Linked DNA regions of Homo sapiens: region 1 is linked to region 2. The links come from fine-mapping of genetic effects on gene expression. A gene starts in region 2. The other region holds a variant in brackets. All regions are shown on one strand. Distances are from middle to middle. Region 1 overlaps RPP14 (ribonuclease P/MRP subunit p14). Region 2 holds the start of PDHB (pyruvate dehydrogenase E1 subunit beta).

Evidence for each region. PIP is the estimated chance that this variant, and not a neighbour inherited with it, causes the effect.
Region 1: its variant is the best candidate, but not a certain one, in a credible set for the expression of PDHB in whole blood (INTERVAL, PIP 0.58).

Annotation. Positions count from the first base shown.
Region 1 is chr3:58,308,225-58,313,595 of GRCh38, reverse strand. It overlaps RPP14 (ribonuclease P/MRP subunit p14), which reads right to left. Exons shown (of 6, transcript NM_007042.6): 2 at 3,190-3,287; 3 at 3,005-3,089. The coding sequence starts at 3,266. HTD2 (hydroxyacyl-thioester dehydratase type 2) reads right to left here. Exons shown (of 5, transcript NM_001348712.2): 2 at 3,005-3,089. Among named protein-coding and RNA genes, the nearest start is that of HTD2, 4.4 kb to the right of the region's middle. RefSeq lists an enhancer at 771-1,272. The variant TTTG/G (reference allele first, on the strand shown) is at 2,628.
Region 2 is chr3:58,431,604-58,436,976 of GRCh38, reverse strand. It overlaps PDHB (pyruvate dehydrogenase E1 subunit beta), which reads left to right and starts at 3,145. Exons shown (of 10, transcript NM_000925.4): 1 at 3,145-3,209; 2 at 3,293-3,346; 3 at 4,993-5,100; 4 at 5,184-5,246; 5 at 5,349-5,373. The coding sequence starts at 3,168. It overlaps LOC107986092 (a long non-coding RNA gene), which reads right to left and starts at 3,382. Exons shown (of 4, transcript XR_007095933.1): 1 at 2,735-3,382. RefSeq lists enhancers at 1,518-2,127, 3,170-3,389 and a silencer at 2,870-3,109.

The sequences.
Region 1 (5,371 bases), 120 kb after region 2:
CCGCTTGGCCTCTCAAAAGTGGTGGGATTACAGCTGTGAGCCACTGCACCTGGCCCTTTCATCCTCTTAAGAGTCTTTTGCAGAGTAAAAGTTTTAAATTTTGATGAGGTACTTAGCATATTTTGATTTGACAGACTATATGAATCACAAAATAATTTCCTGAGCATCCTGTCTTCTTTCAACTTCTGAAACTCTACTTCTCTACTTCTGTTCTCAAAGTTGCTTAAAATGCTGGTCTATGACAAAATAATGAGTTGAATCAGAATATAAACCAATAGTATCATTAATCACCATGTTTAGTTCAGTTCATCTTTTTTTCATGAGGAGCCTTTTTTTTGAGACCGAGTCTCGCTCTGTCGCCCAGGCTGGAGTGCAGTGGCGTGATCTCGGCTCACTGCAAGCTCCACCTCCCGGGTTCATGCCATTCTCCTGCCTCAGCCTCCCGAGTAGCTGGGACTACAGGTGCCCGCCGCTGCGCCCGGCTTTTTGTGTTTTTAGTAGAGACAGGGTTTCACCGTGTTAGCCAGGATGGTCTTGATCGGCTGACCTTGGGATCTGCCTGCCTTGGCCTCCCAAAGTGCTAGGATTACAGGCGTGAGCTACCGTGCCCAGCCCTTTTTTTTTTTTTTTTTTTTGAGACAGAGTCTTGCTCTGTTGCCCAGGCTGGAATGCAGTGGCGTGATCTCTGCTCACTGCAACCTCTGCCTCCCAGGTTCAAGCAATTCTCCTGCCTCAGTCTTCCAAGTAGCTGGGACTACAAGCGTGCGCCACCATGCCCAGCTAATTTTTGTATTTTCAGTAGAGAAAGCGTTTCACCACGTTGGCCAGGCTAGTCTCAAACTCCTGACTGTAAGTGATCTGCTCATCTCAGCCTCCCGAAGAGCTGGGATTATAGGAGTGAGCCACTGCGCCTGGCCCATAAGGAGACTTTCTCATTAAAAGTGGTTCTGCTGCAAATTCCTTATCTCTTCAAGATGGGAAAAGAGTTTGCAGGTGCCAGTCTAGGCCACACTTTGAGTAGCACTGTGCTACAACAATCATTTGTCTAACGTGTTCCTTGTCAAACAGAAGGCATATTAGAATAAACCCAACAAAATTCATCACTTCTGAAAGTTTACTTCTGCAATTTCAAACACAGTTTTAAAATAATCTCTAGGGGAATACAAAAATTAGCTGGGCGTGGTGGCAGGTACCTGTAGTCTCAGCTACTCGGGAGGCTGAGGCAGGAGAATCACTTGAATCCGGGAGGGGCGGGGGGGGGTGCGGAGGTTGTGCCACTGCACTCCAGCCTGGGTGACAGAGCGAGACTCTGTCTCAAAAAATAAATAAATAAAAATAAAATAAAATAATCTCTAGGGGAACCCTCACACACTACTGGGAGGAATGTAAATGTACAACCACTGTGGAGAGCAGTATGGAGGTTTCCCAAAAAACTAAAAATAGGTCAGGTGCAGTGGCTCATGTCTGTAATCCCAGTGCTTTGGGAGGCCAAGGCAGGAGGATTGCTTGAGTCCAGGAGCCTGGGCAACATAGTGAGACCTTGCCTCTACAAGTAAAAAAATTGGCGTGGTGGCACACGCCTGTGGTCCCAGCTACTCGGGATACTGAGGTGGGAGAATCACTTGAGCTTGGGAGGTTGAGGCTGTAGTGAGCCATGACCATGCCACTGCACTCCACCCTGGGCATCACGGCAAGACTTCATCTCAAAAACAAAAAACAAAAGAAACTAAACTAAAAATAGAATACCATTTAATCCAGCAAGTCTACTACTGAGCATAAATCCAAGAGAAAGGAAATCAATTCAAAAAGACATGTGCAGCTGGGCATAGTGGCTCATGCTGTCATCCCAGCACTTTGGGAAGCCAAGGTGGGGAAAAAAAAAAAAAAGGACATATGCACTCTCATATTTATTGTATTCCCAATAGGCAAAATGTAGAACTTAAGTGCCCATCAATGGATAAAAAAAAAAAAGTGGTATATATTACAATGGAATATTATTCAGCCATAAAAAAGAATGAAATTCTGTCATTTGCAGCATCATGAATAGAACTGGAGGCCATTTTGTTAAGTGAAGCCAGCCAGGCACAGAAAGACAACTGTTGCATGTTCTCACTCATATGTGAGAGCTAAAAAAGCAGATCTTGCCAGGCACAGTGGCTCGTGCCTGTAATCCAGCACTTTGGGAGCCCAAGGCGCGTGGATCACCTGAGGTCAGGAGTTCAAGACCAGCCTGGCCAACATGACGAAACCCTGTCTCTAGTAAAAATACAAAAATTAGTTGGGCATGGTAGCGTGTGCCTGTAATCTCAGCTACCAGGGGGGCTAAGGCAGGAAGATCCCTTGAATCTGGGAGGCAGAGGCTGCAGTGAGCCAAGAATGTGCCATTGCACTCCAGCCTGGGCAACAAAGCAAGACTCCATCTCAAAGAAAAACAACAACAACAACAACAACAACAACAAAAAGTAGATTTCATGAGGATAGAAAGTAGATTGGTGATTATCAGAGGCTGGGAAGGGTAGGAGGGTAGAGAGGATGAAGGAGGAAAAAAAGGAATACAAATGTGTTTATTACAATAAATGAATAAAAATTTAAAAATACAGAGTTGTATAATTTATTTTTTTTTTTTT[TTTG/G]ATGTTTGAAAAGCATTCTTTCTCGATTTTTTTTTTTGTGACAGAGTCTCGCTCTGTTGCCAGGCTGGAGTGCAGTGGCGTTATCTCGGCTCACTGCAACCTCTGCCTCCCGGGTTCAAGCAATTATCCTGCCTCAGCCTCCCGAGTAGCTGGGATTACAGGTGCCTGCCACCACACCCAGCTTATCTTTGCAGTTTTAGTACAGATGGGGTTTCACCATGTTGGCCAGGATGGTCTCGATCTCTTGACCTCATGATCTGCCCACCTCGGCCTCCAAAGTGCTGGGATTACAGGCGTGAGCTACCGCGCCCGGCCTCTTTCTGTATTTCTTACAAAGATCTTTGGAATGTTCAATCTACCAAGTGATTCCATACCTCCCCAAACAGGTCCTTCACAGCCGAAATAAGCAGCTGTTTGAACTGTGCAGCATTCAGTCCAACTCCACAATCTTGAAATTCTCTAAAAAAAGTGAAAAAAAAAAAAGTCATATTAAATTTCATTCTATTCAGATTCATGTTAGAAAAGTAATCTAAAATAGAACTTAGGAAACTAAACTTACAGGCAGACTTTCATGTAGTGGTACTCGGAAGGGTTTTTGTAAACTACTCTTTCATATGTGGCAGCAGGGGCAGGCATCTTTTCCAGTGCTGATCACACCTACAGTAAGTCAAGAGGGCTAGAAATGACCAATGCACATGCTATTTTTCAGAGTTTTGATGAGAATTTGGCCTATTTGGGTTTTTTTTGTTTGTTTGTTTTAAGGCAGGGTCTCACCCTGTCACCTAGGCTGAAGTGCAGTGGTACAATCAGAGTTCACTGCAGCCTCCACCTCTGGCTCTCGAGGCTCAGGTGATCCTCCTGCCTCAGACTCCTGAGTAGCTGGGAGTATAGGCACGTGCCACCACATCCAGCAGATTTTTGTATTTTTTGTAGAGACAGGGTTTCACCATGTTGCCCAGGCTGGTTTCAAACTCCTGGGCTCAAGCAATTTGCCCAACTCAGCCTCCCAAAGTGCTGGGATTACAAGTGTGAGCCACCAGGCCCGGCCTTCCTGTTATTATTATTTTTTTTTTGGAGAAGGAGTCTTGCTCTGTCGCCCAGGCTGGAGTGCAGTGGCACAATCTTGGCTCACTGCAACCTCTGCCTCGCGGATTCAAGCAATTCTCCTGCCTCAGCCTCCCGAGTAGCTGGGATTATAGGAATGTGCTACCACGCCCGGCTACCTTTTTTGTATTTTTAGTAGAGACAGGGTTTCACCATATTGGTCAGGCTGGTCTCGAACTCCTGACCTCGTGATACGCCTGCCTCGGCCTCCCAGAGTGCCGGTATTACAGGTGTGAGCCACTGTGCCTGGCCTCCTGTTTGGTTTTTAAGACTTCTGAGCACAGTAACTCATCTAATTCTGATCAAACTAAGGTTACCCATACGAATACAAAATAAGTTTCTATATTCTATAAATGTCAAATCACTGTACTCTTACTTAAAACATAACAACATAATTTTGGCTAACAATTTTCCTTATGAGCACCCAGCTCTTTGCTAAACATTTCACATGCCTTAGCTTGTCTTCAAAATGCTCCTGAGGTAAGAGGTATTATTATTCCCATTTTCGAGAAGATGACACAGAGGTTTAGTAAACGTAGGTAACATCTGCCCAAGGGTGCCCAGAGATTCCAACCACTCTGAGCCCACTCAAGACCAGTTACGATGCCTCTTTATCCAAAGAAAAAGAAAAGACATAAAGGAGTAAAATCTAAGATTTGAAGGTCCTCTTCTTGTTTACTCTCAGTCAACACAGAACACAAAGAGAAGAATGAGGGATGGTCGTTCTGCCGTCTCCTCCCATCCTGTGTCTGCCTGCTCTCAGTCCAAAAGCCAGGTCTGTGCAAGACTATCTGTGAACAACTGAGCTTAAACAGCACAGGGGTTGAGAAGAGGGATTCCTGGAAGGGGCACTCAATGCAGCTTCTAAAAGGTCTGAACTTTCAAGAACGTAGAACATGCTCATCTCTCTGTAGACAGTTCCTTTCCTTGGCTCCATGCCAACCTTGCTCTCCCTCTGGATAGGTCCTATTCATCCTTCAACTTTCAGTTTAAATACCACCTCTTCATGAAGGTCTTCTCTGACACCCTTCTCTAAGTTAAGCCCCCATGTTATGCAATCTCTTAACACTGTCTATTTGTTTAATATATGGATCCCCCACTACAGGGAACAGGAAACTGAGGCCCAATCAAGGAAAGGGACTTATCCAAGGTCACAGAGCTATGGACCAGCATTTCAAAACCACTCTGGGTTAGACCCAGTTCCAACCACTCCCAGATGATGACCTCTGGAGAAAAGAAGTCAGGGTCAAGGAGCTACATCTACCAATCCATTCAACAAACATTAATACTTTGGGGCCTGGCGTGGTGCTCATGCCTGTAATCTCAACAGTTTGGGAGGCCAGGAGTTTGAGACCAGCCTGGGAAACATAGTGAGACCCTGTCACTAAAAAAAAAAACAAAAAAACTTAAATTAACCAGGCATGGTAGTGTGTGCCTGTAGTCCCAGCTACTCCAGGGGCTGAGGTGGGAGGATAGCTTGAGTCTGGGAGGTTAAGGATACAGTGCACTGTGATTGTACCACTGCACTCCAGCCTGGGTGACAGAGCATGACCCTGTCTCCAAAACAAACAAACAAAAAATACTGTAATACTATGACACAAAGTAGGTATTCAAATGAGAGAAAAGTGATAGTGGTA
Region 2 (5,373 bases):
GAATACTTATTAATCTTCCAGATATCACCTTTTGTCAGAACTTGGAGTTATGAATGGCCCTCACTATACTGATGTTTTCTGAGCTCCTCTCTACTCTGAACATAAGGGACCCTAATAGTTAAGCAGGAATATCATCACCCCTATTCAGCCTGAAGAAGTTACAGAAGATGCATCTTCATCCCTCCGAAACTTTTAGGATTAAAGTTTCTCTCATAATAGGGAGGAGGCAAATGTCAGAGGAATGTGAACCAGAGCAACTCCATCTTGAATAGGAGCTGGGTAAAATGAGGCAGAGACCTACAGGGCTGCATTCCCAGACAGTTAGGCATTCTCAGTCACAGGATGAGATAGGAGGTCAGCACAAGATACAGGTCATAAAGACCTTGCTGATAAAACAGGTTGCAGGAAAGAAGCTGGCCAAAACCCACCAAAACCAAGACGGCGATGAGCATGACCTCTGGTCATCCTCACTGCTACACTCCCACCAGCGCCATGACAGTTTATAAATGCCACGGCAATGTCAAGAAGTTACCCTATATGGTCTAAAAAGGGGAGGCATGAATAATCCACCCCTTGTTTAGTATAAAATCAAGAAATAATCATAAAAATGGGCAATCAGCAGCCCTCAGGGCTGCTCTGTCTATAGAGTAGCCATTCTTTTATTGCTTTACTTTCTTAATAAACTTGCTTTTGCTTTGCACTGTGGACTTGCCCTGAATTCTTTCTTGTGTGAGATCCAAGAACTCTCTCTTGGGATCTCGATCGGGACTGCTTTCCTGTAACATCTCCTTTTGCTTGGCAAATCTGATCCTGAAATCTTTTGGTGCTAGGTTGTGGGAAAGGTGGGAAGGACTGATTCACTTTTTCATTCTGAGCACCACCCACAAACTTTTGGGGGCTGAAATCTCAAGTTCAGGAGTTTCTCAGGGATGCTGTGGCAGTCTAGGAAGTGCTGGCCATTCCTGAGGCCCTGGCAGGGACAGTTGGGACTAGACGATGGTGGCAGGTGAGGGAGACTCAGAAGGTGTTGATTCCATATCTTGAAGATCTTCTATCCATTTTACAGATGAAACAGTCCCAGAGAGTAAATGTCATCTCTATGCAGCTGTCCCCAAATTTCTACCTTTAGCCCTGACTAGGCCCTAGGCTCCAGGCAACCTGGGTATGTCCCAGTCATCTAAAGAATAAAGGCTGGCTGCAGTGGCTCATGCCTGTAATCCCAGCACTTTGGGAGGCTGAGGCGGGTGGATCACTTGAGGTCAAGAGTTCAACATCAGCCTGGTCAACATAGTGAAAACTCATCTCTACTAAAAATAAAAAAAATTAGCCGGGCATGGTGGCAGGTGCCTGTAATCCCAGCTACTCGGGAGGCTGAAGCAGGGGAATAGCTTGAACCTGGGAGGCAGAGGTTGCAGTGAGGCCCACTGCACTTCAGCCTGGGTGACAGAGTGAAACTCCATCTCAAAAAATAAACAAAAATACACTCTTACTTCCCCAGCTCCTGGCACTTACACTGCCCCAGGCTCCTCCCTTACCCCATCTATCCATCCAGCAATGACAAAAATCCAAAATTTTCCTCTGCTCTTCCCTAGCACTTACAGCATTCCTATTGATTCTAGCCCAAATAGATCTCAAAACTGTCCCCCTCCTCTCCATCTGGAAGTTGCCTCCTAGTCTGCCTCTGTTGCTGCCACAGACTTCCCAGCATCCGCCTGTTCTGCCTTTGCCTCCACCCCCTCCCATTCCCAGTCAGCAACCTACTGGAAGTTGCAAATTCCTAATTTGGCAGCCTGCAGCTGTGATCCATAGAAGGGAATGTTTGGAATGTCTTGGGGATGGGTGGAGACTGGGTGCTCAATTGTCCCATCTGACCCCCAAGGGCCAAATTAAGACTAATGAGCTTCCAGAGGTTGTCCCTATGGCCAAGTGTTTGGCACCTCCCCATAAGGGAGGAGACCACCCCTCATATTGTCTTATGCCCAATTTCTGCCTCCAAAGAAAGAAAAAGTAAAAACTAAAAGGCAGAAATGAAATCCACAAACAGACAGCCTGGTGCCACACCCTGGGCCTGGTAAAGATCGACCCCGACCTAATCGGTTATGTTAACTATAGATTACAGACATTGTATAGAAAAGCACTGTGAAAATCCCTATCCTGTTCCAGTCTAATTACCGGTGCTTGCAGCCCCTAGTCACATACCCCCTGCTTGCTCAATCAATCATGACCCTCTCACGCACACCTCCTTAGAGCTGTGAGCCCTTAAAAGGGACAGGAATTGCCCATTCAGGGAGCTCGGCTCTTGAGACAAGAGTCTTGCCCATGCCCCTGGCCGAATAAACCCCTTCCTTCTTTAACTCGGTGTCTGAGGAGTTTCGTCTGCGGCTTGTCCTGCTACATCCATAGGGCCGCCCTTCTCTAAAGTTGTTGTAACCTTCCCCCAAGCAGGAATCCACTTCTGCTTTAGGAAGCAGTGGGAAAAAGACCATGCTTTAGAGTCAAGACAGTCCTAAATTAAAATATCGGCTCATTTAATCAATTTCTGCTTCAGTTTAACCGTCTTCAAAATGGAGATAATAATAACACTAATTACCCAAGTGGGGTACTGTGAGAATGAGCTATACAGCACATATCTCAATGCTTGGCTCACAGTAGGTGCTTAATGCAATCAATGAAAGCTATGATGTGCATTATAAGGAATCAACAGACAGCACTGTCCAGGGAAGACTAGACTCACTCATGAAGTGTTAAGTTCCCCATCAGTAGAGCGTGTGCAAGCACTTCTTGGTGCCCAAAGGATTCCAGCACCCACAACAGGTTGGCCTAACTCTTAAGGTCTCTCCAGCTTCCAGAGATCATGCTCCTCAGGGTCTGACTTCTAGTCCCCACGCTTCAAGTAACACCGACCAGGCACGTGTGCCCAGCGTGCACCCCGCCTGTCGGTCACCGCCTACTGTCAATAAAGTTGATTTGAGGCGGCTCCAGGCAGAGGGGCACGGCCACCCACACGCCACCTCAGCCCGGCCCCGCGGCCCCTCACCCGGTGGGCGGGTGGGCGGGTCACGCAGCCGGCGCGCCTTGCCATTGGCCCGCGCCGGTGGAGGCGGGGCCTGCTCACGTCTGCCGGCCCCTCTGTTGTCGTTTGGCAGCGGATAGAGGACACGACCAAGATGGCGGCGGTGTCTGGCTTGGTGCGGAGACCCCTTCGGGAGGTAGGCAGCAGCGCGCGGCCTGTATTCCCACGCGACCCCTGCCCACCCTGCGTCCCGCCGTCATCTTCCTCTCTCCCTGCCAGGTCTCCGGGCTGCTGAAGAGGCGCTTTCACTGGACCGCGCCGGCTGCGCTGCAGGTAACAGGCGCGGGTGCTCGTCGGACGAGGGCGGGGAGGGTCCCCCCTTCTCTCGGGAAGGAGGCCGGAGTCGCGCCTGCGCTGTGGCCTTCCGGCGCCGTGGGCCTTGGGTTTGCGGAGCCAGCATCCTCCGTGGAGCTCCTGCTGCCTCTGTCGCCGCCTGGCAATTAGCACACCGGCGAGTCACCACCTCACAGCTGGCTGGGCAATGGGGGAAAACTAAGACTAGGCGTTTCCTCCCTCACTCCATGTTTTTTTCTTTAAATTGCAGCAAAATAGACCTAACTTAAAATGTACTTTTTAGAAGTGTATAATTCAGTGGCATTAAGTACATTCACCATGTTGTACAACCATTAACCACCATCCATTTCCAGAACTTTTTAATCATCCCAAGCAGAAACTGTCCATTACTCGGTAACTCCTCATTTCCCTTCCCCAAACCCCTGGTAACCCCTGTTGTACTTTTCTGTCTTTATGAGGTTGCCTATTCTAGAACTTCTTATAAGTGGCATCATTTGTCCTTTTGTGTCTGGCTTATCTCAGCGTAATGTCCTCAAGGTTCATCCATGTTGTAGCATGCGTCAGAGTTTGATTCTTTCCTAAGGCTGAATAATATATATATGTATATTTTTTTGAGATAGTCTCCCTCTGTCACCCAGGTTGGAGTGCAGTGGCGCGATCTCAGCTCACTGCAACCTCCACCTCCTGGGCTCAAGGGATTCTCGCGCCTCACACTCCTGAGTAGCTGTGATTAGATGCCGGTGCCACCACACCGGGCTAATTTTTGTATTTTTAGTACAGACAGGGTCTCACCATATTGCCCAGGCTGGTCTTGAACTCCTGGCCTCAAGTGATCTGCCTGCCTTGGCCTCCCAAAGTGCTAGGATTACAGGCATGAGCCACCTCGCTCAGCCCGACATTTTCTTTTTTTTTTTTGAGACGGAGTTTTGCTCTTGCTGCCCAGGCTAGAGTGCAGTGGCACTATCTCAGCTCACTGCAATCTCTGCCTCCTGGGTTCAAGCAATTCTGCCTCAGCCTCCCGAGTAGCTGGGATTACAGGCACCCGCCACCACACCCGGCCAATTTTTGTATTTTTAGTAGAGAATGGGTTTCACCATGTTGGCCAGGGTGGTCTCGAACTCCTGACCTCAAGTGATCCACCTGCCTTGGCCTCCCAGAGTGCTGGAATTACAGGTGTGAGCCACCGTGCCTGGCCTTGTTTTGTCTATTGTGAGTAATGCTGCTGTGAACATTGATGTGCAAGTATATGCTTGAATCCCTGCTTTCAATTATTTGGGGCATATACATAGAAGTGGAATTGATGGATTGTATGTTAATTCTCCTCTCCTTCCTTTTTTTAACTAGATTTTACCATTCATTATATTAAAAGAGCAACTCCTACATTCTGGATGCAAAGTATTTGGCAGTACTTGGCACCTAGTGAGCACTCAGTACATTAACACATGCAAAGACCAACTATGTGTAATAGAAATGTTACTTTTAGAATTCTTTGAGTTTTTAGAGAGAAGCTTGTTCTAGTGTTTTTATATTGTATGCTGTGGGCAGCCTAGGTAAATATAAAGGAAGAAAATCTTAGTTGAATCCCAAACAATTCTGTATTGACTGTTTTTGCATACCTGTGACAGGTGACAGTTCGTGATGCTATAAATCAGGGTATGGATGAGGAGCTGGAAAGAGATGAGAAGGTATTTCTGCTTGGAGAAGAAGTTGCCCAGTATGATGGGGCATACAAGGTAACTAAAATATATGAAAGTTATACAAAATTGAGGTCACTGTTACCCCCAGATACACTTAAGGGATCAACTCTTAATTGTAGGTTAGTCGAGGGCTGTGGAAGAAATATGGAGACAAGAGGATTATTGACACTCCCATATCAGAGGTAAGCCTTCCAGTGGGAAGCAGACCCTGGAGGGCATGTCTGTTAGTGTCCATTATCCTCATTTTTATGGATTTTCACTTATGTTTATATTTTACTTTATAGATGGGCTTTGCTGGAATTGCTGTAG